6 separate regions of the Homo sapiens genome follow, and all the other regions are reported to be linked to region 1. Evidence: microRNA targets listed by miRTarBase, many of them from high-throughput screens and not tested one by one. Region 1 holds a microRNA gene; each other region holds the end of a gene's coding sequence.

Region 1 (5,073 bases):
TCCAGCGCATTTCCTTCCCAGGGTGCACCAGGACTCTTGTAAAGAGGGCATTCTCGTGTAAGCAGTTGCTTTTTTTTTTTTTTTTTTTAATTTTTATTTTTTTGAGATGGAGTTTCCCTCTTGTCTCTTAGGCTGGAGTGCAATGGCACGATCTCGGTTCACTGCAACCTCCACCTCGTGGGTTCAAGTGATTCTCCTGCCTCAGCCTCCTCAGTAGCTAGGATTATAGGCACGCACCACCACACCTGGCTAATTTGTTTGTTTGTTTGTTTGTTTGTTTTTTGAGATGGAGTCTTGCTCTGTTGCCCAGGCTGGAGGACAGTGGTACGATCTTGGCTCACTACAACCTCTGCCTCCTGGGTTCAAGCAAGTCTTCTGTCTCAGCCTCCCAAGTAGCTGGGACTACAGGCGCCCGCCACCACGCCCGGCTAATTTTTGTATTTTTAGTAGAGACAGGGTTTCACCATATTGGCCAGGCTGGTCTCGAACTCTTGACCTCGTGATCCACCCACCTTGGCCTCCCAAAGTGCTGGAATTACAGGCGTGATAATTTTTGTATTTTTAGTAAAGATGGGGTTTCACCATGTTGGCCAGGCTGGCCTCAAACTCCTGACCTCAGGTGATCCACCCGCCTTGGCTTCCCAAAGTGTTGGGATTACAGGCGTGAGCCACCTCGCCCAACCAGCAGTTGCTGTAAAATTTTTTAAAAGGATGTCACTTATACTACCCAGTCATTAAGACTTCCTGAGGTGGAAAGATCACTTCAGCCCATGAGTTTGAGAATAGCCTGGGCAACATAATGAGACCCCACCTCTCCAAAAAAATTTAAAAATTAGGGCCAGGCGTGGTGGCTCATGTCTGTAATACCAGCACTTTGGGAGGCCAAGGTGGGTGGGTCACAAGGTCAGGAGATCGAGACCATCCTGGCCAACATGGTGAAACCCCATCTCTACTAAAAATACAAAAATTAGCTGGGTGTGATGGCACGCACCTCTAGTCCCAGCTATTTGAGAGGCTGAGGCAGGAGAATCGCTTGAACCAGGGAGGAGGAGGCTGCAGTGAGCTGAGATCGCGCCGCTGCACTCCAGCCTAGGTGACAGATCGAGACTCTGTCTCAAAAAAAAAAAATTAGCCGGGTGTGGTGGTATGCAGCTGTAATCTTAGCTACTTGGGAGGCTGAGGTGGGAGGATGGCTTGAGCCCAGGAGTTCGAGGCTGCAGTGAGCTATGATCACACGACTGCACCTGGGCGACAGAGTGGAGGTGATGTGCTTCCTCAAATAGCCATGAGAACAACGCTTCTTTTCTTGTCCTGGCTCAGGAACCTCACCACCATGCCACGTTGCCCTGCTGCGCTGTGCTGGTGTCGTAGGTCGGTGGCAGGACATTTGCCCACCTCACAGGCTCTGCTTTCAGTCTTGAAGTATGGCTCCTCTCGACTGCTGCCCACACGGCCTCCTGTTGTCAGCCTGGGCTACATATCTGGGCTCTTCCATCCCTGTGGGCCTGGTGAGGCCTGGCCATGTGCCTGTGTCATGCCAGTTGCTTTCAAGATGATGTTTCTAGTAGGACCACATGTGAACACAGTGACCACCATGGCCAGGAGGAAGCTGGCTGCCCATCACCAGCTTGCCCAGGGACCTCTTGCACCCTGGCGGGGATCAGCAGATCCTGCTATGAGAGAGCAGAAGGCAGCATGCTGACTTCCAGGAGTGTCCACAGCGTGGCTGGGCAGAGCAGAGCTACAAATGAACAGATCCAGTGCCGAGGCCATCCTGACTCTCTCAGGGGCTGCCAGGCCGTGGGTGCAGGGTCCAGCAGGCCCACTTGATCCCAGCATCCCACGTGTGCCTGCTCGGGGTGGCCAGCTCACTGCTTCTTCACCTCTAGCCCAACCAGCAGGTGCCCCACCATGAGCCCCTCCAGGCTCACCTTGCCCATCCCTGCCATGTGACCTGGGACTCTTGAGATGAGATCACAGCTGCAGAGCACACAGCACAGGGAGGAGCTCATCAGCATCTTCCCACCTGTGGTGCCCTGGCCCAGCCTCCTTCCGGTTGGGGTTGGACCCGCCCTGGCAGCCAGGTTTTGCGTCACCTGCCCCACCCGCCCTGTAACCTACTTGCCCAACTGCTATCCCGGTGGCCGTGAGGCCAGTTGACAGAATGGAGAGGGGTAAGCATTTTCCGCCTGGAGAGGATGGGCGTGTGGCCATCTGACTGCTTCTGCAAGCCTGGTGGTTGTGTGCAGGCTGCCCTGGTGGTCTTAGCCCCTTGGGGCAGGCGGGGTCCTGTGCAGGATGCAGAGACTGGGCGTGGCTTCCTGCAGATGTTCAGATGCTTCTGGGCTGTGGCCTCTGAGACCCAGGGCAAGGCTGCTGACTGGACCCCAGACCCTCCTGCCTGCCTCTTCCTCCAGCTGCTCTTTGTGGTCTGGTTCTGGCCGCCTGGGCCTCAGGGCCAACCCTGCATGGCTTTGACCACTCTGGCCTTCTTGGACTGCCAAGGACATGCTGAGAGTTGGTTGGGCTTGGCCCAAGTGCTGAGCCCAGGGCAGGGGTGGGGACAGGCAGGGCGGAGCCTCACCTGGAAAGCCAGGCACGATTCTCCCTGGGACACCAACCCTCCTGTAGAGTTGGCCAATTCGGGCAACCTTGAGGGCGAGCTCTGTGTGGCACAAGAGATGCCCTGAGGAGCCCAGCCTCACCTGGTGTGATGGGACCTGTGGAAGTTGTGGGAAGTGGTCCTGGCCACCCGTGTGCCCACATGCCCTGCGCCCAGATCAAGATATGGTGACCAAAAGGACAAGGACTATATCCATGGCTCCCTCCCAGAGCCTGGCAAGTCAGCAGGCATGAGAGGGTGTTGGAATGCTGTGGTGGGCCTGTGTGGGGACCTTGTAGGACCTAGGGAACCTGCAGGGCTTGGCTTAGGGAGCACACAGGGGCCCAGGCAAAGGCAAGGTCACAGGTCGGGGGAGGTGAAGCTGGCAGGGGGAGGGGGAGACCTGCTGGCTAGAGCTGGGTTGGGGGCCGGTGGGCAGTGGGCCTGGCTCGAGCAGGGGGCGAGGGATTGGAGAGAAAGGCAGTTCCTGATGGTCCCCTCCCCAGGGGCTGGCTTTCCTCTGGTCCTTCCCTCCCAATGACCGCGTCTTCGTCGAGGCCACAGCCCTTGGCTCTGCGCCCACACCTCCAGTGCCAGGCTGTCCGGAGATCTGTTTATGGCCTTCCCTTGGACCATGGAGCCCTCCCTGCCACTGGTGCCTGGAGGGCTGGTCTGCTGCCCCTGCACCCTGGCCAGCTAGGATGGTGGGGTCCTGCAGCTGAACTGGGGGTGCCTTTCTGCCTGTCTGTCCTACGTGTATCAGTGGCCAGAACTGCCCTCATCCATGGCCTTGCCAGCAGCTGGGCGTGCAGCCCAGGGAGGGCTGAGGTCGGCTGAAGTTGATTGAGACCAACGGCCTTCTCTAACACCCCAGAGGAGCATGTCCCTGGTGAGCAGGCCTTGGGCAGCCCTGGGCTCCAGGCCAGTGGGATTCCAGTAGAGACCAGCTGGCAGGGCTTCTCCAGTGACTGCAGCCAGGGGTTCTCATGTGCAGGAAAGACCAGCTCCTCCAGAGTAAAGGGACTTGTGTCTTCTGGCCACATGGTGAGTGCTGGGCCCACCCCATCAGTGGCACCTTGGGTGCACTCCCAAAGCCCAGCGTGTTCCCCATCTTCCTGCACTGCATTCGGGATGGTTCTGCATCATCAGCTGCACCTGATTGCTCTTAAACCCACAGCTGAGCTTTAATGTGCAGTCACTGAAGCTTTCATTTCTAAAATAGCTTCCTAAGAGTTCTTTTGGCCAGGCATGGTGGCTCATGCCTGTAATCCTAACACTTTGGGAGGCCGAGGTGGGTGGATCACCTGAGGTCAGGAGTTGGAGACCAGCCTGACCAACATGGAGAAACCCCGTCTCCACTAAAAATACAAAATTAGCTGGGCGTGGTGGCGCATGCCTGTAATCCCAGCTACTCGGGAGGCTGAGGCAGGAGAATTGCTTGAACTCGGGGGGCGGAGGTTGCGGTGAGCCGAGATTATGCCAGCCAGCCTGGGCAACAGGAGCAAAAACAAAACAACAACAACAAAAAAAAACCGAGTTCCTTTTGCTGCTTTGTAAACCCAGTTTGCTCTTCATCACTTCCTTTGCCCTGCAGATGTTTCTGAGCTGTCTGTTTTCTTTCTGCCATCAGAGCATGGTTGGTTGATGATGCATGTACGGTTATCTTTCTGCTGGTTCTTGCTCATGGTGCTTCTTTCATTATGTGGTTCTTTCTGACTATGTACTGCTTCTGGTCTTTGAAAAATGATTTTGAGACTTCTTTGAAGTATAGGATGAAGGTATCTTTCTCCAGAGAGAACTTCAGGCACAGGGGCACTACGAGTGCTGGAACCCCTTAAAACTGTGCTTGGCTTGTGGGTCCTTGTACCCCCAGTGTGGACCTGGACGGCTGGCTGTGCCACAGCTTCTCAGAAACTTCCCTTCACTTATGTGCAATGTCCCCATAACCCCTGGGGGTGGCTGCGGCTGTAGTTCATCTCTCCCTAAGCATCGCTCTTTGGAGTCCCAGCCTAACTTAGAGGAGAGTCTTCTGTTAGGTTCTTCATCCTGTGGGGGTGACTGGACCTTGTCTTCTGTCTCCTTCGCCCCCGAGGCCACCAGAGTATGAGCCCCAGTGTGTTCAGTGGGCAAACGCTCTCAGGCAGGATTGGCCACTGTGTTCTGCTGTCCTCTGTGGGCCACGCTCTCCGAACTGTTGGCCAAATGCTGCATGAGCTCATCAGCTCCTGGCAATTTTTAAGATGTTTTCATATTTCATCCAGCATCTTGAGTTGTTTTTACCAAAAGGATTGCCCCTAGTAGCCTGCCCACCCTCGGATGATGGCCCCCTGTGGGCGCTTCCAGGGCACCCGGCAAGGGGACCCAACCCACTTCCAGCCCCACAGTCTGCTTCCCACAGGGCCCCCTTGCAACAACACACCCTTTAGCTTCCCATCCTATGCAGAGTGGTGGCCAGCAGACCATCTCAAATG
Region 2 (5,073 bases), not on the chromosome of region 1:
AACTAAGATATTTTGTTAAATCCTCTAGGAAGCCAAACATCTCTAAAACTCTTGAAAGTGTGGTCAGTGAAAGATGTTGTCATTGAATCTTGGATGAACTTAATAGATTTCTTCTTTTGCAATCAGCCCTCATATTTCAGAATTACAAAAAATAAATCCAGTTTAGATCTAGCTACCTAAACGATAAAGCCTTAAACTAACAACTGCCTCTTCCTTTAATACCAGAATCAAGCAAATGGCCAAGCAGATGGCAGTTTAAAACAGTAAGAATCCTGGGAACACGTGGGAAGGGTGAAGAAGATGGAGAAAGTGGAGAGACTGCAGAAAAATGATTCCAAATGTTTCCCTACTTCTTTCCTCTACCCTCTGACCCATAAAGCTTGCCTATTGTCTTGCCTTGGCTTGGAAAAAGTTGCAGTGAAATAGCTTTAGAATCAAAACAGATCTGTTTGAATTCTCTCTTGCTTCTAACTAATCTGAATTCTAATTCCTTGATTTATGTAAGACATAATACCTTCCTTATGTAGCTATCCTGAGAACAAAAGGAAGAACATAAAGTATTGCAGAAAGGACTGACTATGTCTGAATCCTGCTTCCTACCCGATTTCGTACATCCTATCCCCTCAAACAATATCTCAGAACCTGCCTGCTCAGTGTGCAGACTGAGGGCCAGCAGCCTCAGCATGACTGGGAGCTCACTAGCAGTTCAGGCCGGCTGACTCAGAACCCACATTCTAGCAAGACTGCCCATCAAAGCAGGAGAAGCATCATCCTGTAGGAAAGGTCTCCTGATTTCCAGCAACCCAACTGTTCAACTACATGTGAACTCTTGCTTATTCACCCATTTCTAGTAATTGCATTCCTCACTGTGTGATGAAAGATCTAACACATGTATTTTCCACGTATGATGCATGTTGGCAACATGTCCATTCTGGATATGATGTGGGATAGCCTCCCAGTTGCTGTGCCTGTCACCATGCAAAGGGAGTGGTGCTGGCTAGGTACATCCCAGGCCCTGAGACAATTTGCTGGGGACTTGTATTCTGCTCATTGGTTAGATATCCCATAATTTACACCGGAGGGAAGGCTGAAGGCAAGAAATAGCCATCGATAAACTCATGTTGAGTTTAGAAGGTGGATTCCAGAGAAGCACTTGGTCTTTTGACCAGAATAACATAAAAACAAATACACACTAAAGTCATCCAGTTCAAAAGATTTAACTAGTTTATTGAGGAGTTTCTTGCTTCTTTGGAGTATAAACATGATTTCCAAGTTATTGCTTTCAACTTAATCTATTGAAACCCCTTTACCCAAGTGTATATCAAGTTCCTTAACACCATCTTGGCCAGATTTCATAACTGATGAAAACATTCAATGATCAAACCCTCTGCACTGAAAACCAGTTAATAGAAGCATACTTTATTTTTGGGACAATGGAAGGGTTAATTTTGGAAAATGCTGACCTTTATGGGTTACATTACACTTTTGTATATTATGAACTGATTAAAGTAACACACTTCCTTAATACCAAACTTGATTTAGTAAAAATGATGGTCAGTGCCTGTAAAAATTATCTTAACTGTATTCCAACAAGGACCATGCCTTATTTCTTCCCGTTTCCAATACCTAGTAGTTTCTGGCAGCAGAATAAGTAGTCAATAACTGCTCAGAAAAACTTAACTGTTGACAAGCCAAATCTTAAAGGGCAAAGGCTATTGAACTATCTTTTTAACTGCAAAACAGGGTCATTATACTTGTTCAAATTTTTGAGTTGACAATATCTAATGAGAGACAGCAACTTTTATAAATTGATAAGTTTTCTTTGGCTTCTTTAGTGTACGTCATACCCTGGAATGATTTATATATTCCATTTCTGCTCAGAAATGGTTTTTTTGTTCTCACAAGTTTTTGTCAAAGATCTAGTACAAGGGTCTGATACAGAAATTATTGAAATATTGTTTTCAACATGCCTTTAAATTACTACTAAAAGGAAAACATTGACAATGAATATAAGACTTAACAACTGTAAGGTTTGGCAGTTTAAGAAAGTAACAATTTAAAAATTAACAAAAGGAAGATAATTTGTAATTTGTATAAGGATTATATAGACATTTAAATATTTTTATCTGAGGAATATTTTGAATTATTAGTAATAAACAATAGAGGGTTAGATGTTTTGATGAAAAATTAGTACTTAAATCAACCAAAGCTGCACAGCATCAACTGTTTTTATTTCTTTTTTTGAGACGGAGTCTCGCTCTGTTGCCCAGGCTGGAGTGCAGTGGCGCCATCTCAGCTCACTGCAAGCTCCACCTCCTGGGTTCACACCATTCTCCTGCCTCAGCCTCCCGAGTAGCTGGGACTACAGGCGCCCGCCACCACGCCCGGCTAATTATTTTGTATTTTCAGTAAAGACGAGGTTTCACCATGTTAGCCAGGATGATCTCGATCTCCTGACCTCATGATCCGCCTGTCTCAGCCTCCCAAAGTGCTGGGATTACAGGCGTGAGCCACTGCGCCCGGCCACATCATCAACTTTTGAAGTTATATTTAAGAAATGCCTTCAGGGGAAGAAAATAATTGTTCATTATTAGAAAATGAATTAACTGTAAACTCAAGGTATGTGCCTATATAAATGTCTGTGCTCACTTCATTGGAGACATTTAAACAAGTTGAGTCTTACAAAGGAAAATCTTTTTCCTTTTCCTGGCCATAAGTAATTACTGATTCAGCTTTTTAAGCAATTCAGAGCACACTGCAGGTGCGCCAGATTCAAACAAGCATTGCATAAACCAAATGGAGATAAAAGCTACCAGGAACCTGAGTACTACTCCGGATGAGACACCAAAACCCACGTCTAACTTAGCAACTAAGTGCACAGTATTAATTCTCATTGGTCAGTGTATGCATAAGTCACTTTGATGAAACCATCTACAGATTTTTAAAAAATCTTTGTGGCCCTTGTTCACAACCAGTGATCTTTGGAAGTTAAGGTCTGCTGAGTTGAGTTACAAGGCAGGTGCTATATTCAATGCTGGTATGGTACTGATACCATTTCTACGAAGTTAGAACTTTCTAAAACATCTGAAGATAGGGGAGGCATGTGCGACTAAAATAAGGATTAGAGGAGTGACTGCAGAGACTGTCAGTTGGTAATGAGGGAGGAGGAGGATAAGCTGGTGTTAGCCCCAGATGAGACCACAATGCAGCAACAAGACAGCACAGAACTGCAGGAACTTCTAGGAACCACTGTCTGGTCCTGCTGCCAAGTGAGGCAAAACCAAAGAGGGATTTAACAAAAAAAGGCACAAAGGAAAAACAAAATGAAACCTAAAGTTATGAGTCAAAAGGTTACCCCACTGTTACCCTGCATTAAAGAGGACAAGGCCAGAGTGAAAACTCTCTCTCCTGGTTCTTTCAAACAAGACAGGCTTTATTTAGATCACCAAAAATAACATTTTACAGAAAGGGAACCATAACATTACACAACAAAGTATAGCTGTAAAATCTCAAATAAGAAAGGCAATGCTTTCTTTAGATCACCAAAAATAATGTTTCACAGAGAGGGAACCGTTAGAAGCAAATGCATAGCTGCAAATTTTCTTTTGCCATCAATATCGATTCCCTCTAAAATACTTTGAGACTACTTTGTGGTTTCCGAGTACAAACTAAACCTTTTTGGACAGAGTTGCTCGGCTTCATCAAAAAAATAAAACCAATTTGCAAAAAAAAATTTGTTTAATGCTAACAAATAAAGAGACAATGTGGTTCTTGCTAACTAACTGCAATGTCTACTGAAATGGCCTAACCTATTCCACGAATATTTCACTGTGAACATAGTTGCTTTTTCCTTGCCATCACAGATGGCCTGCAAAGTAACAAGTGTCGTGTCAGAGCACTTTCAGGCACCCAGGGAATCATTCCTAACAGAATAACTGCAGTATGTGGGCAACTCAAACAACAGAGCCCCAAGGTGGGCATTGTGTTTGCGCTGTGGGTAAAGACCCACCACCTTGTTAGTTATTCACCTGGAACCCAGAGCGCCAAACTAGACAGAGCAGTTGCTCTTACAGAACCAACAACATTTTAATAAATTGCCCGGGGGTTCTTGGTGCTGTAATGTGCCTCACAGGCAGCGACATAAGCCGACTCTGGGAAGAAGTCATCGTGGTATTCTGCTAAAAACCTGGAAAAAAAAAATAGCCCCAATGAGCACCATACTAAGGACTAAATACCATCAAGCAAAATATTGACTTTCAACCTACTAACATTTCAACTGTTTTTTGGTATTAGGAAGAAAAAAATGACTATAATTTTGATCTCTCTATACTGATTATTTTCACTGCACTTATCCAGCTTCTATGTGAATTACTACTTATCTGAATGCCTTCACCATCATCAGGTGTACAAATGGAAACAGAACCTACACTCCACTAGGTGGCAGTCTGGTTATATAAACACTTCTGTTGGGGGCGGAAAAAAAAAAGCCCATGAATGTTTCTACATTTTTCTGTTGTTCAAACAAACTATTAAAAACAACAGATTATAGGCTGGGCACTGTGGTTCACGCCTGTAATCCCAGCACTTTGGGAGGCCGAGGCAGGTGGTCACGAGGTCAGGAGATCGAGAACATCCTGGCTAACACAGTGAAACCCCGTCTCTACTAAAAACACAAAAAATTAGCTGGGCGTGGTGGCGGGTGCCTGTAGTCCCAGCTACTCGGGAGGCTGAGGCAGGAGAATGGCATGAACCTGGGAGGCAGAGCTTGCAGTGAGCCGAGATCACGCCACTGCACTCCAGCCCAGGCGACAGAGCAAGACTCCGTCTCAAAAATAAATAAATAAACAAAATAAAAAATAAAAAACGATTATAAACAATAAATCTCACTTCAGAAATGTACATCATTTATATGAGCAAAGTCATACAAAAATTGAACAGAACAACTAGTAATGGCATTTGGTGTCCTAATTTGCCATGCCAAAACATGTTACAGTTCTAGCTAACAGTACCAAGACACAGGAAAGACTCATATGTATGAAGACGGATGTTAAAAATGTGCTGGTCATTCAAGAA
Region 3 (5,073 bases), not on the chromosome of region 1:
GCTTGCTTTCTGCTCCAGTGCCTTGAGCTCTTCCCACTGTCAGTCATCGCTTCTCGTGGCTTCCTGATTCCAAGTGTGTGTTGCTTGTGCCCGATGCGGGGAGGCTGGGGTGGAGACTCCAGCTGCCGGCATATGGTGGGGGTAGTGCCACACAAAACGTGGCACCTTTATTTTATTTTTGTTCTCTCCTCACTGTCTCACTAAAGGAAGAGAAGAAACCACCCCCTCCGGTCCCAAAGAAGCCAGCCAAATCCAAGCCGGCAGTGAGCCGCGACAAGGCCTCAGACGCCAGCGACAAGCAGCGCCAGGAGGCCCGCAAGAGACTCCTGGCGGCCAAGCGGGCAGCTTCTGTGCGGCAGAACTCAGCCACCGAGAGCGCAGACAGCATCGAGATTTATGTCCCGGAGGCCCAGACCAGGCTCTGAGACCATGCAGGAGGAAAGAAACGATTTTAAATCATTAAAAACACAAAAACTAAGTGCGAACGGAACAGAGTTTTCTCAACCTTTGCTATGGTTATTCTGTCTAGAGACCCTGAGCCAACTTTCAAATTGACGCATACAAGGGCTCACAATTTGGCTTTTTTGGGTCCCTCCCAGCTTTAGGTTATGAAGATTTTACTCACAAAAAAAATCAACAAAAATCACGAAACTAGAAAACTTTTTTTTTCCTCTTGCTGGCCGTGGTGGACTAGATAGATGGACGTCGGCAACTCCCGGCCCAGCCTCCATACTGCGGTCTTTTTACTCGTTCTATCTGATGAGAACTCACACTAGCTTGTTTACAAGATGACGACAGTCCAAGGGCAGCCTTGGGCACCTGCCATGTCCCTCCTTTCCCCAGCTATCCCCGCTCTGACCTTGATTTTCATTCTTATGTTTTTCTCTTTTCCCTTCAGAGCTCACACAGTGGTCACCATTGTGGCAAGCGGCTTTCTGGGTCTCAGCCCTCTCTGCGGTTGAGGGCCCAGAGGACAGAGAGATGGACATGCGTCCCCTCCCTCCCCCCGCCAAGTGCTCACACACAACCTCACGCGCACACACACACACGCAGATGGAGGCGCCTCACTGGGAGGTGCCCCGCCAGCCCTGGGCAGTGTCAGGCAGGACTCACTCACCGCTGAGCAGATGAGGGAAGTTTTAGTCTTGGCGGGTGGAAATGAGACGAAGCCACAGTTATCACACTCCAGACTCCTGCCCTTTTATTTTCTCCAGCCCCTTCTTCCTTCAGCAAAATCTAGGACTCCCGAGTGGCTTCCAGGGGGCCGTCAGTCCTCAGCCGCGCCTGTGTCCGGTGCCCGAGGGGCGGGCGGCGGTGTCTGTATGTATGTGTACATATGCACATAGACCTTAGAGTGTATAGTTAACAAACGCCCATCTGCTCACCCATGCCCACCCAGCGCCGCCGCCGCTGGCTCTCGGGGCACCTGGCAGGAGGCGGGTGTGTGAATAGCATATATTTTTACATGTACTATATCTAGGTGTGTGTACAAGTGTGTGTAAAAATATATACCTTGTGTGTAAGCAGCCCTTTTTTTTTTTGGTCTCCACCCCCCTCCCCCCGCCCCGCACTCCTAAGGGCCCATCTGCCCAGCCTCTGAGTTTTCTGTTCTATTTTTTTTTTAACCCCAATTATCCTTCTCTCTCTCCTGCCCCCGCATCCCACTCCCAGGGTGTCACGAGCCCTGAGCTGCAATGGCCCGGGCCTGCAGGGCGGGGTAGGGGAGGGCAGGGGCTGAGCCCCGAAGCCAGCTCAGTACCTGAGGGGCTGCTCTATGCTGTGTATGCGCCTCTCTGGCATCCGAGACATCCTCTTGGCTGGCGCTTGCTGCAGGGGGGGACCCCCCCCCGTCCCCAGGTGAACCAAGGGTCTGCTCCGGGGCCCATTTCCAGCTTGGCCGCCGTCTGTGACCTTGGGCAAGTCACTTGACCTCTGTGTGCCTCAACTTCCTCCTCTGTAAAACGGGGACAGTCCCTGCCCCTCCCTACCTCACAGGCATGTTGTGAGAATAAATGAGGTAACGTGTACCAAGGGCTTGTGGCATTATTGCAGGGGGATGAGCAGAGTGGGCCCAGGAAACTGAACCAGACCCCTCCCAAAAGGCAGCTCTGTGGAGACAGCCTGATGGGAGTGCCAGCCGGGATGCCAGCTGTCACATGCCAGCTCTGTGATCTGGGGCGGGAAGATGGAGCTGACCGTCCCCTCTCCCGAAAATCAGTGTGCAGCACTTACCAGCTTCCTGTTTGAAATAAACCCTTGAAAGATAGATGCTATCACAGGAGCCAGGATAGGCTGATAAAGACGACCCTAGAGGACAGTTTACACCCCCCACAGATCCACAGTCTGCACATTCTCCAGGGTGGGGTACTCGGTATCCCCCTGCCTGGCAGCTGCTTCCACTCTGTCAGGTGCGAGCCCTGAGTGCATCTCCAGAGCACCTCCTCTACAGGCCCAGTGCTGGGGCAGAGCTCGCTCTGGTGAGGGAGACAGATATTGAACGTGACAGATAAGGTCAAGTCAATGACAGGTGGTAAAAAACAAGACGCAGCAGAATGAGGCTGCAGGACCCCGCAGCGCGACCACCAAACCCAGCCTGGGCAGGAGTGTTCTGGTAGAGACCAGAAGGATGAGTGGGTAGCCAGCTTTCAGGGAGGGAGCGGCACGCAGTCCTGGCAGAAGCAGGAGGTGCCAAGCCCCAGTGGTAGGAACATACCTTTTCCTTTTTTTTTTTTTTTTTTTTTTTTGAGACAGTCTTGCTCTGTCACCCAGACTGGAGTGCAGTGGCGCGATCTTGGCTCACTGCAACCTACGCCTCCTGGGTTCTAGCAATTCTCCTGCCTCAGCCTCCCGAGGCTGCCATTATGCCCGGCTAATTTTTGTATTTTTAGTAGAGATGGGGGTTTCACCACGTTGGCCAGGCTGGTCTTGAACTCCTGACCTCAGGATCAGCCCCCATTGGCCTCCCAAAGTGCTGGGATTACAGGCGTGAGCCACCGCACCCGGCCGGAACATGCCTTTTAGAAAGTTCTCTGGCCAGGCTCTGGAGCCACAGACTCCTGGTCTCCTCCCTTGGCCCAAGCCAGCCAAGAAGCTCGTGATCTCAGGCCCAGGGGATGCACGGACCCTGCCTTCCCAGCAGCTTTGTTCAGGCTACCTCGCCCACCCCAGCGAGCCCCCTGGGAGCCCATCCGAACTGTGGCCAGACCCCTGTGCTTGGAGCAGCCCTTGACCCCGGATCCCAACACACCTGTTAGTGGTGACAGAGCATCTGGTGACCACAGGTGGCTTGGATTAACTCCAGGGCTGGCACCTTCCCAGACCTACCCCTACCCTGAGACCCAGCTGGGGGTGACTTGAAGGGTAAGTGAAGAGGTTTCCAGTTGCATCAGGCATTGAAGCAGACGTTCAGGGGTGCAGCTAGCAGCCGGCTCTCCCGGATGGGCCATGGGGATTGGGGATGGACCCTTAGCCTTCCTGCTTCTGCTGTGGCAGGGGAAGGGACTTGAGGGTTAGATTAGGGTCTCAGGAGGGATCCTGCACTCTATTAAGCACAAGATGGGGTAGGGGTGTCTGATGTACAGAATCTGGACCCCCACGCCCAGCCCTCCTGGCACAGCAGTGGAGAAGACGCCACCTCCATTGAAGGGACAGTATAATAATGAACACATATCTCGCGGCCAGAGTCACCGATTACTGATATTTCACCCATATGAGCATTATCCCTCTCGGATACATACACATCGTTTTCCCCGCGAGCCATCTGAGAGTCAGTGGCATACACTGATACTTCACCCCAAAACACATCATGCAATTCCCAGGCACGAGGACGTTCCTGCACAACCACAATACCATCACCACCCTCAAACTTAAGAAAGGAATGTTCCAGGGAGCACCTCCTTTTATATGAATATGGCCTAAAGCACAGCCCATACGCCAGGTGCCCTCACAACCTTGTCCCTTATACCTTCTCCCTTTTATCCATCCAGGGTCCCATTAAGGATCAGTCACTGCTTTCAGTTACCATGTCTGTCTGGTTTTGTTTTGTTTTGTTTTTTCTTTTCTTTTTTAGACAGGGTGTCACTCTGCTGCCCAGGCTGAAGTGCAAAGAATGGTGTGATCACGGCTCACTGCAGCCTCAACCAACTGGGCTCAATCAATCCTCCTGCCTCAGCCTCCCAAGTAGCTGGGACCACAGGTACATGCCACCATGCCCAGCTAATTTTAAAATTTTTTGTAGAGATGGAGTCTCACTTTGTTGCCCAGGCTGGTCTCAAACTCGTGGGCTCAAGTGATTCTCCCGCCTTGGCCTCCCAAAGTGCTGGGATCACAGGTGTGAGCCACCATGCCAGGCCACCACGTCCTTCTAGTCTCTTTAAAAATCAAAATTTCCCTACTTTTTGGGTTTTGTTTTTCGAGATGTTGATGGCGTTTTGTTTTTTGTTTTGTTTGTTTTAGTTTATTTTGTTTGTTTTGAGACGGAGTCTCACTGCAACACCCAGGCTGGAGTGCAGTGGCGCGATCTTGGCTCACAGCAACCTCCGCCTCCTGGCTTCAAGAGATTCTCCTGCCTCAGCCTCCCAAGTAGCTGGGGACTATAGGCGCCCGCCACCACACCTGGCTAATTTTTGTATTTTTAGTAGAGATGGGGTTTCACCATATTGGCCAGGCTGGTTTTGAACTCCTGACCTCACGTGATCCTCCCACCTTGGCCTCCCAAAGTGCTGGGATTACAGGCATGAGCCACCGCGCCCAGCTGAGATGTTGGTGTTTTTAAAGTATCCAAGCGCACTCTACAGAATGGTGCACTATTTGGGTTTACGTTTTCTCATGGCCGGATTCAGATTAAATGGTTTTCACAAAAATATGACTTAGATGATGTCCCATGTCCTTGTATCTTGTTCCATCAAGGATGCATTTGTCACTTCAGAGAAAGGCTGACAGCAGCTTCCCAGAGAAGCTGGGAATGAGTCCTCAGCTTCTGTGTTTCCAAAGCCTAGTCCTTGAGGGAACCAGGACAGGGACAGACAGGAAGTGCCCTCCTAAAGGCTGCAGGATATGACCACAGAGGCAGCA
Region 4 (5,073 bases), not on the chromosome of region 1:
CCGCGATCCCGACAGATTCCCAGGTGGAATAAAGACCTGGGGGCCCCAGTGGCTGCTAGAAAGGGCTGACCAGGGGTCTTCCCCTTTTGACTAACATGTCTTGGAAATATGGGGTCTGTGTTATATAAGGAATTCCACTCTCCCTCTGCCTACTGGGAAGATATTCTCCATATTTCTTGGAGTTCCTCACTGGTGTAGAAAATGAAATGGGTTTGAGGACATGTAATTTCCATGTTTTTATTGGTGAAACTAAACTGGTTACAGCAATGCTTAGATGTCTCCACCAAGCTGTACACCTCACGCCTTCTCCTTTCTCTGTGTCTGTTTCTTCTTTCTTGCCTAGAAAAACTCTGAGCTGGACCCCAGCCGGGCCTCCTGCCACTTCAGACATTAATATCCATCTAAATTCATAGACAAGAGCCCAGAGCTGCCAGCCTGCAAGGGGGTGTTCCCAGGACAGGCCACATGGAAGGTGCAGATCAGAACCCAGTCCTTCCATCTGTCTCTGGTAGCCATCCCTCAACATCAGGCTGGCCCTCCCCTCGCTCTGGATTGATTTTATAGAATTCCCTAGAAATGGTTCTGTTAGCCCCAGGTGGAAGCTGTCACCTGAATGAAATCTTACAGGTCATATCTTTTGATCTTTTTCTAGAAGGTACTAAGAAGACAGAAACAAGCAAAGCCGCCACCACAGAGCCCGAAACAACCCAGCCGGAAGGGGTGGTGGTCAACGGGAGGGAGGAGGAGCAGACGGCAGAGGAAATCCTCAGCAAAGGCCTGAGCCAGATGACCACCAGTGCTGACACGGATGTTGATACCTCTAAGGACAAAACCGAGTCGGTCACCAGCGGCCCCATGTCCCCAGAGGGCTCACCTTCCAAGTCTCCCTCAAAGAAGAAAAAGAAATTCCGAACCCCCTCCTTCCTGAAAAAGAGCAAAAAGAAGGAGAAAGTGGAGTCCTGATTCATGACACCCTTGGGCTCCCTCCTGCCTCCTCTCTCTCCTCCCCTTCCCTTCTCCCATCTCTGTCCCTGCAAGCACAGGGCTAAGGAGGGATAGAGTAGGACCCTGGACCACATTCGGAAGGGGAACTTAGAGATCACCCGACCAACCCTTCGTTTTACAGTTGCCCAAGAGAAATCAGGTGACTTGCCCAAGGTCACACAGCTAGTTAGCGGCAGAGCCTGCACTCGAATTCAGGTCTCCTGACTTCCAGTCCAGTGCTCCTTCTACTACACAACACTGCCTAGTTGTGGGCTGCCTTTGTTTGGATGCTGTCCACCAATCTGAGCCTAGGGCAAGAAGGCCAGAAATGGGCCGTGAGCTCTCACAGGCTCAGACTAAATCAGAGGTCAAGGCTTCCCCTGAGTAAGGTCCATTTCTTCCCAGGAATCCAATCTCCTGTGGATGGAGCTATCTCTACATTTAAAAATCTCTTCTCTTTTCCACTTTGGGTCCCTGCCCTGCTGCTCAAAGTGACTAGCCAAATTGACCCCTCCAACAGAAAGTAATCTTTGTTCCCAAGGGCTGATGGCTTAGCTTGTACTACCCCAAACATTAACCCTGAGCTTTCTTCATGGAACCTCTTGAATGATGGATGGAAGAGCTATAAGAGGTGGTAGGCATAGGGGCAAGCCATGTAAGCTGAGGATTGGGGATGGTTTCATCAACATAAGAGGCCAGGAACTTGACCCCTTTGAATTGTGCATCTCAGGCACTTCAAAACTAAAACCAAATTTAGCATAGGAAAAAGTTGTTTAATGCTCAGGGCAGAAATTTGGGGAAGTTGAAATCCTCTGTTGGCTTTGGGTTGTATAAGGAGGATCAAAACAACAGAGGAAATGCTGACTTTCTAGCTTTGCATGACACCTGGAGCAATGCACTGTACCTGCCTCACTCCTGTCCAGTGGTCAGGTTTCCCCTGACCTTCCCTCACCCCCAGAAACACTTGCTTACAGACCGAAACTGGCATCTTACTCTTGGCACCTTGACTTGCACCCTCTGAGGTTCCAACTCAGTCATTCTTTGTCCAGCAGAGGAGAATCAGAAATGAGCCCTTCAGGATTAATCCTCTTGCACCAGCTCTCAGAGAAATGCTGGGTATCCCTGTCCTTGTCCCTATCTGTCCATCCTGGGGCCTGGTAATGGCCACAGTTATTGTTTTAAATGCCAACACTGTCTTCTCATGTTCTTCCGTGGGGCATTGATTAATGAGCATTTGTTGGCTCCTAAAAATTAGACAATCCATTCTCTTGAAAGCACCGTGTCTTGAAAGAATATTTTTCCTTTTGATCTGACTATCGTGAAAATATTTTTGAAAGTTCTTAATCATAGTTTTCCACTTTTGAGCACTTGCTATCTATAGACACTGTGCAGGCTTCACATACATTACATTCTTTAACCCTCACAGTAATCCTTTGAGGGGGGTAAGATCATTCCCATTTTGTGGGTGAGGAAATTGACCCCCTAAAATGATAATTGACTTGTCCCAGCTGACTTGGCTAGAAAGATCTGGATCCTGGATTTGAATCCAGGTCAGTCTGAGTCCAGAGCCCTTGCTCTTAACAGCTATGGTGAACAGACAACTTTAATCCCCAGGGGTGGTGGTTTTCATCCAGGATTTGTCTCTATGACTGTTCTCCATTGCATAATGTTAGCACGTGAAGCAAAGGTAGGGAACACCCTGTGCTCATCCTCATCACTGCACGTGAAGTTCCTGGTCAATGTGGACTGTGGTGATGCTACTGTGTGCCTCTGACAAAGGAGAGGCAAGAGCCTTCTGGTTGGGGCGGGAAATACCATCCATAGTTGGCTATTTCTTGAGAAGGAAGGAAACTGACCTAGGACCAAGGTAAACCTGACACTGTGTCTCTCTAGTGCAGATTCCTAACTGCTACCCCAGGCTCCATCTCTGTTCTACTTCCTGATTGGGTCAAATTTTAGGAGGGACAACCCACTCATGCCTCAGAAAAATCTGTCATATGGGAAATGCCTTTAAAAGCCAATCCCTTGATGCCTTCTTTTAAAAAGTAGATTTCACACTTATTCATTTATCCTTACATGGTATTTGTTAAGGATCCACTGAGCACCAGGCATTATGCTGACGTTGAAAGAGAGCCATCATTATGACTAGAATAATAAGTGGCAAACGATGTTGTGAGAATGGTGAACACGACCTCTGATGCAGCCTTTTGTGTGCGAGTTGTTCTACTTCGGGGGTGATGTTGATTGCCTCTGCATTCAACACACTCTATTCCCTTGACAATGAGGCCTCACTTAGGCCTCATTGGGTGGAGTCTTGCTGCAGCATTATTCTGGGAATTTATGCCATGGGCCCACTTTCTATTGATAGATGAACCTGTCAGTTGGTTCATTCCTCATGCATTCCAAAAACATGCATTGAGCTTGGGTCAAGGGCCAGGCATGAGGATAGGCATAGTTCCTGCCCTCAAGAAGTTCATGAGCATAGGAGGTGTATAGACAAATTGCAAAACAGGCAAGGGTACCAAGGTGGCATAAGAAAGCATCAATTAACTATCTTGGGGACCAGAGAAACCCTGAGAGAAGCAATGGCTGCTAAGGTTTTAAAACAAAGAGTAAATTTCCAGTAGAATGAAAGGATTGGCAGGGCATGCCACAATGAGGGAAGAATGTGCAAAGGTGTGGACGCATGAAATGCCATGATGGGTTCCGCTGAGCAACGTGGCATTGCCAGAGCATGATGTGGAAGCTCAGGGGTTGAGGGGTCCCTTCATAGGTAGGCAGGGCTGAATCCTAAGGAAACTGGTAGGAAGTGTGGAGGAGCTAGACTTGTCATGGAAGGGGTTTGGAGCCACTGGAGCCTTTAAATCAGGATAGAGTCATGATCAGAATTGCATTTTAGGAAAATCCCTTTGGTGGCTGAATGGAGACTGTGGACTGGATGGGCGTGGGATGGTGGCATGGGAGCTATGAGGCCTTTTTGAAATGTCAATACTAAAACATAGTTGATGGCCTGCTTTACACGATGTTTCCTCTACAGCAGATAGTGAGTTTCCAACACAAAATTTATTTCCATAAAAGTCTTTGGATAAAGCACCTTAAGAGGGATTTTCAACAAGGAGAGGGGAGCATTCAAAGAGCTAATGTTTCCAGTTTTATTTTGTCTTGGTGTAGAATTGCTGGGAGAGGTGTCCAGCCATCCTGCCATTTCTTCTTCCCTTGCACAGAATGTGGCACATTTAGCTCCAGGCTTGAGGACATGCACCAAATGCTACAGAAACAGACATGTGGTCCAAACAAATCTACAGGCTATTAGAAAGGAAAGGCCATTTTCTTTGGCTGTGGATAAAAGTTGGCTGAAAACTTTGACCAATATCTGACTGGAGAAAATGTGTATTCAAGAGCTCAGATTTGGTGGGCAGTAGGTTCATGTCTGGTTGAGCTACTGTGCTTGGATGTGCCAGAGAAAAGGGTAACATTTGAACCAATGTGCTGCTCTGTGGCTGGCTGAGCTGGGAAGTGGAGAGGTTTCTGAGCTTATTTCCATCGCAAGGCAGGCAGGAGGAGAGAGGACAAGAAGGATTAGTGGTTTCGCAGAGACAGGCTTGGCTCCAACGGCTCCTTGCGTAGTGTTGGCTGCACCCAACAGTGGTGTGAGAGAACCGTCCATACCATGTGACCTTCCTCCCAAACTGCAGAAAGAGACACCTTCTAGCCCAGATCTGGACTCCCTAAGAGCCTCCTGGCCTGCATGCAACCCAAGTAACTGTCCTACTTTGGCCAGTTGACCCCCTCCACTCTCCTATAACTAAAACAGGGTTCTTCCTCTGTGAACAGATAAGTTCTTTTTAAAGGACTTGGGGGAAATTGGATGAAGAGCAGTAAGTTCTTACAGTAAGAACCCCACTGTAAAGCACTGCCCTCTGCCACTGATCCATGTAGACTGAATTTGAATCCCATTCCCTGTGGATGATACCGTCACTTGCTCATGGTGACATGGCAAGACAGTCATTCAGATGTTTGGCATTGTTGTAGCAGGGCTACTGCTAGTGTGGGGGAAAATGCTATAAATCCACTTCTTTGATTGCCATG
Region 5 (5,073 bases), not on the chromosome of region 1:
CTAGGGTGGGAGGACTGTTTGAGCCCAGGAGTTCAAAACCAGCCTGGGCAACATAGCAAGATCCCATCTCTACTTAATAACAAAACTATACACTTATATTGGATATGCTCTTCTCTATGGATGACATCTTTCACAGTTGGGGAGAAAAAGAGATAAAAACACATAGTAATAGGGAGAACTAAAGGGGAACCATCAGGAGGCCAGAGACTATATTCTACAAAGGGAGAGCAAATGAAAGAGTATGGACGGACAAGAGAAGGGTGAGGGAACCCACAGGCCAGAAAAGTAGCAGAAGGGGGCAGTACAGAAGGCCCACCCACCCTGGAGCCCCCATCTGCTGAGAGGTCCACCGTTCCCACGCCAGCACGTGCACCCTTGTCTGCGGTTTATGTTCACTCTGCATCCCTTCCTGTACTTCACGTTTCTCTTCATCTTTGACATCATGACCCTTGTGGCCCTGTGTCTCATCAACCCCACAGGAGGTGGCAGCTCGGCTTCCCCAAGCCTCTGGTTAGCCCACTGCTGTTGAGCCTCAAAGCTTTGTCTTGGCTGGAAAGAAAGGCCTGAGGCTTCTGGCCGGTGCTCGGCTTCTACTCCAGAGCTGCTCAGGGTCGGCGCCTAAGCATGAGGTCTCCTCCTGCCTTGAAGCTGGGGTTTCCCACAGTCTCTGCTAGGCCAGGAGCAAAGTCAAGCTCCATTTGAGTCCTGTTGCCCACCCATATCACAGAATCATAGCTGTTAGCATGGGAAGGGGCCGCAGAGGTCATCTCATATTCAATTTCTTGGTCTCATGGCTGGAGTTGAAGAATCTGCTCTGCCTTTCCAGAATGATCTGAGCCAGTGTGAGACAGACACCACCTCCAGGAGGAGGCCCATTTGGCTGTGCCCACAACCCCGCCCCCCAGCACAGTCTCCATGTGGGGTAAATAAGCCTCTAACCCACCAGGGTACAAATCCTTTCAGGGCTGCTTGACAGCATGTCTCGGGGCTGCCCTGCAAGGCCCGTGTGTCCAGAAAGAGCGATCTCAGTGACTTAAGTGCCTTCCACCTGAAAAAGACATAGGATTTTCCCCCCCTTGTAATTATAAAAGAAAACCAAGGTACCTGTAGAAAATCTGGAAATTACAGAAAAATCTAAAGAAGAAAATAAAATCACGATGGCCTAAGTGCAACTGTGAAGGTTTGGCATCACACCTGAGCTCTGTGAAAGAAACCAGCCCTAAAACCAGCAGCCACCACCCCAACCCCTACACCCCCATCTGCCCAGTCAGTGACTTAAAATCCATCGTGTTAGGCCGGGAGTGGTGGCTCATGCCTGTAATCCCAGCACTTTGGGAGGCCGAGGCAGGCAGATCACCTGAGGTCGGGAGTTTGAGACCGGCCTGACCAACATGGAGAAACCCCGTCTCTACTAAAAATACAAAATTAGCCAGGTGTGGTGGCGCACGCCTGTAATCCCAGCTACTCAGGAGGCTAAGGCAGGAGAATCACTTGAACCCAGCAGGTAGAGGCTGCAGTGAGCTGAGAGCATGCCACTGCACTCCAGACTGGGCAACGAGAGCGAAACTCCGTCTCAAAAAAAAAATATATCAACGGCTCTGCTGCCCATTCTGAGGATGGCGCAGGGTGTGGGCTGTCAAGGAGACAGAGGCAGGCCCTGTCCCTATGGACACAAGGGCCCACTCCAACTACCAGAGCCCCGCACAGCTCTGTGACACCCCGTGGCCACAGGTGAGATCAAGACTGCAGGGCCACAGTGGAACTTCACCCAGCAGGAAATGATGAGGGAGGCATCCACATCAGTCTGCCCCCACCAGCCTGGCCACCAGTGGAGTGTGAGTGAAGCTTCTGGAGAACATTCTGCCCCCAAGCCCCTCCAAGAAAAAGGATCAGAGAAGGAGGGCTCTGCTCTGCCCCAGGCCTCAACCTGGCTTCCTGCAGCTAAAGGCCCAGCCTCCCAACTTCCTCATCACCTTGCAACACGGAGTTCAGGCCCACGTGGGCTGTTCTGGGAGTCCAGCAATGCTGGGTGATCTCCCAGTGTGATGCTGTCAGGTACTACAAAGCAGCCCCCAAGCAGGTGGGGCCATTCCCAGCCAAGGGCCCCAGACAGGGCCCTGACTGAGAATGCTACCCAGAGCACTCAGCTCACTCCCTTTTGCTTTTCCCAAGCCTGCAGAATTGAATGTGAGGGCCAGAGGGCAGAATCTGGGTCTCACACAGATGGGCAGCCTGGCTGCAGTCACCAGTTCATGCCACACTGGACAGATGGGTGGCAGGGAAGGGCAGGAAGGAGTGAGAGAGAGGCTGATGCAGCGGGTAGCAGGGACTGCAAATTGTCATGTGAGACAGAAAGAACCTACACATCAGCCAACTCCAGCTACGTGCTGCAGAGGAGAAGCTGTCTCAAGTTTAGAAATACAGGAAAGCTGACTGACTAGGAAGAGATTAAAAACTCACATCTTCAAACACAGCCTTACAGAAATTGACCTTTATTTGTTGTACTAAAGCCTGTTTAACTTTTGATACAAAGTAACATTTTAGTACAGAAAATCCCAGTCTGTCAGCTCAGTACCTGTCTGTGCACACTGTACCATCTCAGTCCCACTCTGCCTGTAACTTAGAAAACAGCCCCTACCCCCAGAGGGTCTGCGAGTTAATACCTTGAGAATAGTCTACAGTTTTTCATAGTTTGTCTGAGCTAGAAAACTTGTACCTGTAAAACAAAGGACAGCATTGAGGACTGAAACTTGTCTCTTTTTTGAACAACTGTGCAAGAAAATATATCCCTTTTTAAAAAACATCAGTTATGGCTAAACTACAATCTAGTGTCTAGAATTACAAAGAATAAAATGAAATCAAAGATTTCTCGCTAGTAAAATGAAATGTTAGGAACAGTATTAAAATATAGGTCCTACCCCAACGACACTTACACAGAGCCCAGTACAGTACCTATTATTAACAGGACGCATAGCTTAAGGAGGAACCACATCAAATCTTCAGCCAGACATATCTAGCCTCAGAAGTGCAAAAAAAAAAAAAGCCCCCAAACGAAGACACCCACACTGAGTAGGGTGCATGCCGTGAGTGCTGTAATCAAGATTAAAAAGACCTCAGTTTTTCTTTTTAGACTGTTGATAGTGACAATAACCATTATGCTTCCCCTAAAAGCTCTCAATTCAATGTCTGAAACATGAATGTTTTCATATCAAAAAGAACTGATGTACCTGCCACCCTCTAAAAAGTTTAAGAATTACCCTGCAAACATTGCACTGATGAAGGCTGTCACGACTTACAGAGCCTAAGGAGGACCCAATGGCAGGCATCAGCACAGCTGAACACCACCTGGACCCCACTGCAGCCCTGCCCACGCAGCTCTCACGGAGCAGACACAGTCCTCAAGTAATAAGCACAGATGGAGGAGAAACGAGAGGCTGTGGAAGGCAGGAGAGAAAGGCCGAGAGACGAGTTTGTAAGAATGCCAAAGTCACCTTCCCCATTGTGGGAGGAAAATGCCAAAGGCACTGGTTCTGCTGCCACAGGCAGTCTGAGCACCTGGAGTTGTGACGTCCTTCCAGGAGAGGTGCCACCAAGGAGCAGGAGGTTTGTCAAAGCTCTGGTCCCACCAACAAGAACCTCCCAAAGCAAAGCAGCCCCCATTGAGGTTCCAAGGTCGTTTTGCTGAAGACGGGAACGAAACCAACACCAAAGCGACAGGGGGTTGACAGAGGGGACAGGGGCTGGGCACCGGCAACATGGAGCCGTTCAAGTAAACATAAACCACCAAATACTTAGAAAAGGCTTGTAAACGAGTGATCCGAAAGGTTCTCTTTGCAGCATCTCTGATCAGCTGGCTAAAGAAAGGTGGGTGCTGAACCCGTCTTTAGTGTTATCTGTTTTGTGTTAAAGCACACGTGTGACACGGGCAGAGTGTGTGGGCCTGGGCCTGGATCGCACGCAGCCGTGGCCCTCTGTCTACAAAGGAGGTGCTTCTGGGTCCTGGTTCCGGATCCTTCCCCCGCATGTTCATAGACGGACAGACTTCTACTTTCAGTCGCTAGAAAAGAGCTGAGTCTGGTGTCCCCTCAGGCGGCCAGCTGCAGTCATCCACAGCACAGCATTCTCCTAGAGCGGGCAGGCTGGAATCCACAGGACTTTATTTTGTTCTTGATTGACCATTGCCAAGATCTGAGTGCAAATGCTTGACAGGGCTCCTCCCTGGATGACCCCTGCAAAAGAGCCCCCCAGACACGTCATTCAGCTCAGAGTAAGACCCCAGGTTTGAGGCAAGGCAGTACAGCTTGCACTCTTTCTACTGTGTGGCTGTCTGCTTTGTGCTCCTTGGCACTCTGCTCCATCCCCACCTGACTCTCCTTCACCAGCAAGAAACTGGGAAAGAAAATTGCCCCTCTTGAGTTGATCACTCATATGTAAACTGCCCACCCCACTGCAGTTAACACCCTGGGTTGGGTTTGCAATGGTTGGGGGAATCCCAGGGCATCAGAAGGAAGTTTGGAGGACATGTGGCGGTGGTCTAATCATTAGCAGGATTCTGCAGGAAACGACAAGTTTAAGGAGCCAGATAGCTCATGGCCAAGAGGAGAGTCACAGAAAGATGATGGCGCCAACTTGGGCCAGCCCTGTACTATAGGAGTTTGACAAAGGGGTCTATAGACACCAGGCCAGGGGTACTCCAGTGTGCTCCACATAACAGCACCTGGACACAAACCAAGCCCCTACTGCAACAAGGCATGCTCAGAAATTGACAGTGAGTGTCTAGAAACTGCTATGGAAACAGGACGTCGTAATTTTATGTCTGTTGAATCTAACAAGAAAAAAATAGAGCTTACCTTTTGCAAGACTTAGAGTTTTAAATTTTCATCTCTCTAGGAATTGTCAGTGTATTTGGCTAAATACCAGTCTGTGAGGAATTGGAAATGAAAGTTCACACACACACCCACACACACACACACACAGAGGCATGCACACCTGCACATACCTACACACACATGGGCACCAAGCCCAGGTCCCTGGACTAGATCATAACACTCTCCACAATGCAGTTAGAATCCC
Region 6 (5,073 bases), not on the chromosome of region 1:
AATCGCCCAGGAAATGAACATTCCAGAGAAAGGGTTCAAGGCAAGCTTGGGTTGGTGTCGAAGAATGATGAGAAGGTATGACCTGTCTCTGAGGCATAAAGTGCCCGTGCCCCAGCACCTGCCGGAAGACCTGACTGAGAAACTCGTCACTTACCAGCGCAGTGTCCTGGCTCTGCGCAGGGCGCATGACTATGAGGTAGCTCAGATGGGGAATGCAGATGAGACGCCCATTTGTTTAGAGGTGCCATCACGGGTAACTGTTGATAACCAGGGCGAAAAGCCTGTCTTGGTCAAGACACCAGGCAGGGAAAAACTGAAAATCACAGCAATGCTTGGTGTCTTGGCTGATGGGAGGAAGTTACCACCGTACATCATTTTGAGGGGAACATATATCCCCCCGGGGAAGTTTCCCAGTGGGATGGAAATTCGCTGCCACCGGTATGGGTGGATGACTGAAGACTTGATGCAGGACTGGTTGGAAGTGGTGTGGAGACGGAGGACAGGAGCAGTGCCCAAGCAGCGAGGGATGCTGATCTTGAATGGCTTCCGGGGCCATGCCACAGATTCCGTGAAGAACTCCATGGAAAGCATGAACACTGACATGGTGATCATCCCAGGGGGTCTGACCTCACAGCTTCAGGTGCTGGATGTCGTGGTCTACAAGCCACTGAATGACAGTGTGCGGGCCCAGTACTCCAACTGGCTTCTGGCTGGGAACCTGGCGCTGAGCCCAACCGGGAATGCTAAGAAGCCACCCCTGGGCCTCTTTCTGGAGTGGGTCATGGTCGCGTGGAATAGCATCTCAAGTGAGTCCATCGTCCAAGGGTTCAAGAAGTGCCATATCTCCAGCAACTTGGAGGAGGAAGACGATGTCCTGTGGGAAATCGAGAGTGAGTTGCCAGGAGGAGGAGAACCACCAAAAGATTGTGACACCGAAAGCATGGCTGAGAGCAACTGAAGGGAAAGGGAAAGGTAACCACTCAGGAGTAGATACTCAGTGCCTTTGCTGACATGTCTGTGTTCTACAAACACCTTCTCTCCATTATTTTTCTGTTTTTAAGTTCCCTTAGAGCCTACAGTGCAGTAGTGTAGATCAGGGGTCCCCAACCCCCAGGTCACGGACCATACTGGTCCATGGCCTGTCAGGAACTGGGCTGCACAGCAGGAGGTGAGCGGCAGGTGAGCAAGCATTACCACCTGAGCTCCGCCCGCTGTCACAGCAGCGGCATTAGATTCTCATAGGAGCACAAACCCTGTTGTGAACTGCACATGTGAGGGATCTAGGTTGCAGGCTCCTCAATGCCTGAGGATCTGAGGCGGAACAGTTTCATCCCAAAGCCATCCTACCACCCACTACCCCGCACTTCCTGGGTCCCTGCAAAAATTGTCTTCCATGAAACCAGTCCCTGGTGCCAGAAAAGTTGGGGACTGCTGGTATAGATAACAGACCATTAGCATTTTCTCCTTTATATGAAACATTTATTATTTGATTTATTTGTGTCTATTTTGCTCTGTGGCTTGGACCCAGAAACACTTGTATAATAGGTGAAATGAACAAAGAATGAGCTGCCAGAACATCTGAGAGCTGTAAAGTTAAAATTATTTGGACCCAAAGAAGCATAGTCTGACGTTGTTCAGTTCACACAAAATTTTGTCTGAAAAGCCAACTTTTTTCTTTCCCTTTTAAATTATGCTGAACATTTAGGGCCAGTATGTGTAACTGACATGCTGGGACAGTTGTACTCACTTTTGCTGGCCTGTAGGACTGTGACATAGGGAGAACACTAAGTGTGTCCTCCGGGCCTCGGGTCTCAGTCCTGGAGCTATCTACAGTATGTTACCAGCGAGTAAGAATAATAGCTTCTACTTGCTTTTCCCTACAGAGTTCAGGAGTTTTAAAACGTCATCTTAGTCTCATTATGACCTTCACATGGGCTATGACAATAATTTCCTGTAGTCAGCAGATGTCTGAAGGAAGATATTTTTTAACTGAATCTTTACACCAAAAAAAGAAAATAAAACGGTGCGTATCTAGGACTCTAGTGAGGGCTGAGGACAATAGGCCTGGAATTTTCTGGGTTGAGTACACAAGAAGAACAGCTTTCAAAGGAAAGTAGGAATGGAGGCCTAACTGAGACAACACTAGTGAAATGACCCCACCCACCTACACCTCCAGAGAGGAGGAGGATGAGCATGTACAGCAGGGGGGACACCCACAAAGAACAAACAATTCATTTACCTGTTCGTTCTCATCTCCCTAATTATAAATTAAATTGATCCTCCAGACAGTGTTTTATATGAAGGAAGAAGCCACCTTTTTTACAGAGGACCTGAAACCGTCAACCATCTTCACACATTCTTTTTCTTTCTTTTAAAGTATAATTAGGTATTTCCATCTTCCTTGCTTTTTTCTCCAAATGAAATGCTAATGGGAGCCTTATTTTACCCACTTCAGCTATATAAGTCCATCTGTGTTTCAAAGAGTGACTTATGTCTCCTGCCTTGCTTCCAAATTAAATTGTACTCATATTGCTGAATCCCATTGTAATTCTGGGATCCCTGGAATTACAATGGAGCAAGAAGTTCTTACTATTACATTCAAAATCACCAAAATTGCTTTTTTTTCCCCCTTGGGTCCTCCTTGCTTTGAGAAACCCCATGAATCCAGCCTCCCTTTTCTGCTGACCCTTATATTGCCTGCATTGGATATCAAACTGAATTACATTGAGTTTCCATCTTTTCTTCATTTACCTTTTGCTTTTCCCTCTCCTTGTTAGATAACATTTTTGTGCACTTTTAATTTCCTAAGCTCCTTACCACCTCAGGGACATGATTAAAAACTTCCAGAAGAGGAAAGGAGAAAAAGCTATGCTAAGTTGCATTTATGAATGTTGGCCTGTAATATTGGTCATGAGCTTTTGCTCTTCTAGTCTGCCACAATTCTCTCTGCAGCTCCTGAGGAAGTGATGGGAGTAGACAGATTCACAGTGAACAAGAGATTTGGGAGACCAAGTGGGCATAAAACTACGTCTTGGCCTCTATTTGGAAATCTGAATGATGGAATTATTATGTTTGTTAAAAGTTATACCAAAAAGCCAAGGGTTAATTCATTTAGGTTCTCTCTGTTTTCCAGCAAATGGAACTCTGATTTAAACAGCTGGGGATGAAATTCCTCAAGATGATTATTCCTGAAAGTGTGGATGCGCTGGATGCGCAGGGAACATCAGGAAAAGGCCACGGGGCTCTGAACAGCCCCGGTCCAGACAGCAGCCTGTACATCCATCCCAGGACACAGCCCAGCCCCTCCCCACACCATACAAGGTATCAGAAAAGTCTAGGACCTATCATTTCATCAGAGACATGATCAGAAAAGAAACTGCTTCTGCCCCATTTCTTGTTTTGGAGATTACTCCATCTGTCCATCAAAAGAAACCTGTAAATATGAAAGAACAAAGGTTATTTCCTGGAGAAAAGACAATTTATTCAACACCAACGAGGGACTCATCATATGGGCACAACTCTGGTGTCCTTCTATGGAGAAAACCTCAAGTAAAGTTTTATTCTGCCTTTGAAAATGCTTCCAAAAGTAGACCCTGTCCCCACACAGGTCAAGACTACAGAGAAGGCTTTGTAGAAATGTGTCACCTATGTACACCTGCTACTTACACATTTCCTCTTTTGGAAAAATGAGATACTTAGAATAACAAGAAAATTAAGACATACTGGCCTGGTGCCAGCAGATGGCTTTTCTATAGACAAACTAGGTTAGTGTGGAAGATATAGGTTAAAATAAACTATGCTGTTTTATTTATCTTCCCAACCTGATTGGCAGCTAGACTTTTTTAGGGTCTCATTTAATGGCCCTGTTTTTTTCATTATTATATTTAATGATAGGGCAGGATTTCGTATGCAAGCTCTTGTTTCTCAGGCTGCCTGCAGAAGAAGTCGCTATAAATTATCTGTTGTCTACATGGTACAAGGCCCATTGACTCATCTGATGCTTGTTTTGTTAATTTCTTTAATATTTTTATCACGGGGCAGTGGGAGGGCTTGGGCTTTTAGCCACAGCTGTTTTAAGACTTCTGATCTCCTGCCCTGCAGGAATAGGTGGGAAGTCATTGAATTTTTACACTATAGTAATTTGCATTCCCACATAAGTTTGAGTGTTACGAAAACATTCCTTTAAAGGGATCTGTGCTACACAAAATATGCCAGGACCTCACAGACAAAGCCATTGCTAGAAATGTCATTCCAATGATCAGATCTGGAAACAGGCTGCCATAACCACTTTTCCTTCTTGTAGACTCAGCTCACCTGTATATTTAAACTGTTCTTGGCATCTTGAAACACCTATTTCTACTCAGGTACTCATTGTCCTGTTACTGATTCACCTTTCTGATCCTTTTCAACCAGTTTTCCCCCAAGGGGGGAAATTTTACTTAACCTCTAGTATTTGAACAACTCAATATTTGAATTGTTGCCCCATTTGCTTTTACCTGTACTGTATTCTTGGTCATCTCAAATGGCGTCTAAACCCAGCTACTTTGCATTCCAGAAGTTTCCATTCCCTCCAATTCCACCTAATTTTTCATCTGTCCTAGTTACTGGCTCTTTCTTCATGTCTTATTTCTCTTGCTTTGGGAGCTTAAAAGATTTTACAAGACCTAATTTTGGGTTCCTTCCTTGGAGCCATAGTTACCCTGCCAAGAAGAGTAGAAAATGGGTTCAACTCCTGTTTCGCTCCACCAACACCTCTGTGAGTCTCATCATCAGCTGAGCGATGATGCCTTACAGGTTGCATAGCACTGGAACTTTCCTAGAGTAACGGCTCTGCTGCCAGGGTTTCTCTGGGCTCATTCTTCCACTGACTTAATTATGATCTATGCCTAACAGAGCCCCAGTACAACTATTTTGCAGAATGGCTGTTACCCTAGAATTACTATAGCACATATTGAGATATAGTTGTACTCCCTAGTAGATAGGAACTGACCCCAACAATAAACTTTGATAATAAAGACAATAGGCTATGGTGATTTTATTTCTTTACCTATTAGCATTGTGAAAAGTTACATT

The links. The annotated mature microRNA hsa-miR-185-5p reads UGGAGAGAAAGGCAGUUCCUGA and lies in region 1 at 3,072-3,093, shown strand. An mRNA with a match to its seed (bases 2 to 7 or 8) in the 3' UTR can be bound and repressed. Matches are read on the target gene's strand: a 7mer-m8 pairs with bases 2 to 8, a 7mer-A1 pairs with bases 2 to 7 and ends in A, and an 8mer does both.
Region 2: miRTarBase lists MSL3 as a target of hsa-miR-185-5p. The part of its 3' UTR that is shown has no 7-base or 8-base seed match.
Region 3: miRTarBase lists DLGAP4 as a target of hsa-miR-185-5p. Seed matches in the 3' UTR shown: 7mer-m8 at 1,643-1,649.
Region 4: miRTarBase lists ADD2 as a target of hsa-miR-185-5p. Seed matches in the 3' UTR shown: 7mer-m8 at 998-1,004.
Region 5: the mRNA of DLG5 is a reported target of hsa-miR-185-5p. Seed matches in the 3' UTR shown: 7mer-m8 at 3,447-3,453.
Region 6: miRTarBase lists POGK as a target of hsa-miR-185-5p. The part of its 3' UTR that is shown has no 7-base or 8-base seed match.

What each region holds. Positions count from the first base shown.
Region 1 is chr22:20,030,082-20,035,154 of GRCh38, forward strand. MIR185 (microRNA 185) reads left to right here and starts at 3,058; the gene lies at 3,058-3,139. The region is part of intron 1 of TANGO2 (transport and golgi organization 2 homolog); the gene reads left to right. RefSeq lists enhancers at 1,072-1,768, 2,203-2,422, 4,106-4,175.
Region 2 is chrX:11,774,093-11,779,165 of GRCh38, reverse strand. It overlaps MSL3 (MSL complex subunit 3), which reads right to left. Exons shown (of 13, transcript NM_078629.4): 13 at 3,394-4,186. The coding sequence ends at 4,087. Among named protein-coding and RNA genes, the nearest start is that of MSL3, 18 kb to the right of the region's middle.
Region 3 is chr20:36,526,607-36,531,679 of GRCh38, forward strand. DLGAP4 (DLG associated protein 4) reads left to right here. Exons shown (of 13, transcript NM_001365621.2): 13 at 207-2,027. The coding sequence ends at 425. The region is part of intron 2 of DLGAP4-AS1 (DLGAP4 antisense RNA 1); the gene reads right to left. Among named protein-coding and RNA genes, the nearest start is that of MYL9, 12 kb to the right of the region's middle.
Region 4 is chr2:70,659,315-70,664,387 of GRCh38, reverse strand. It overlaps ADD2 (adducin 2), which reads left to right. Exons shown (of 16, transcript NM_001617.4): 16 at 653-5,073. The coding sequence ends at 963. Among named protein-coding and RNA genes, the nearest start is that of ADD2, 110 kb to the left of the region's middle.
Region 5 is chr10:77,788,315-77,793,387 of GRCh38, forward strand. It overlaps DLG5 (discs large MAGUK scaffold protein 5), which reads right to left. Exons shown (of 32, transcript NM_004747.4): 32 at 2,477-4,229. The coding sequence ends at 4,126. Among named protein-coding and RNA genes, the nearest start is that of DLG5, 140 kb to the right of the region's middle.
Region 6 is chr1:166,849,452-166,854,524 of GRCh38, forward strand. POGK (pogo transposable element derived with KRAB domain) reads left to right here. Exons shown (of 6, transcript NM_017542.5): 5 at 1-972; 6 at 3,134-5,073. The coding sequence ends at 958. Among named protein-coding and RNA genes, the nearest start is that of POGK, 13 kb to the left of the region's middle.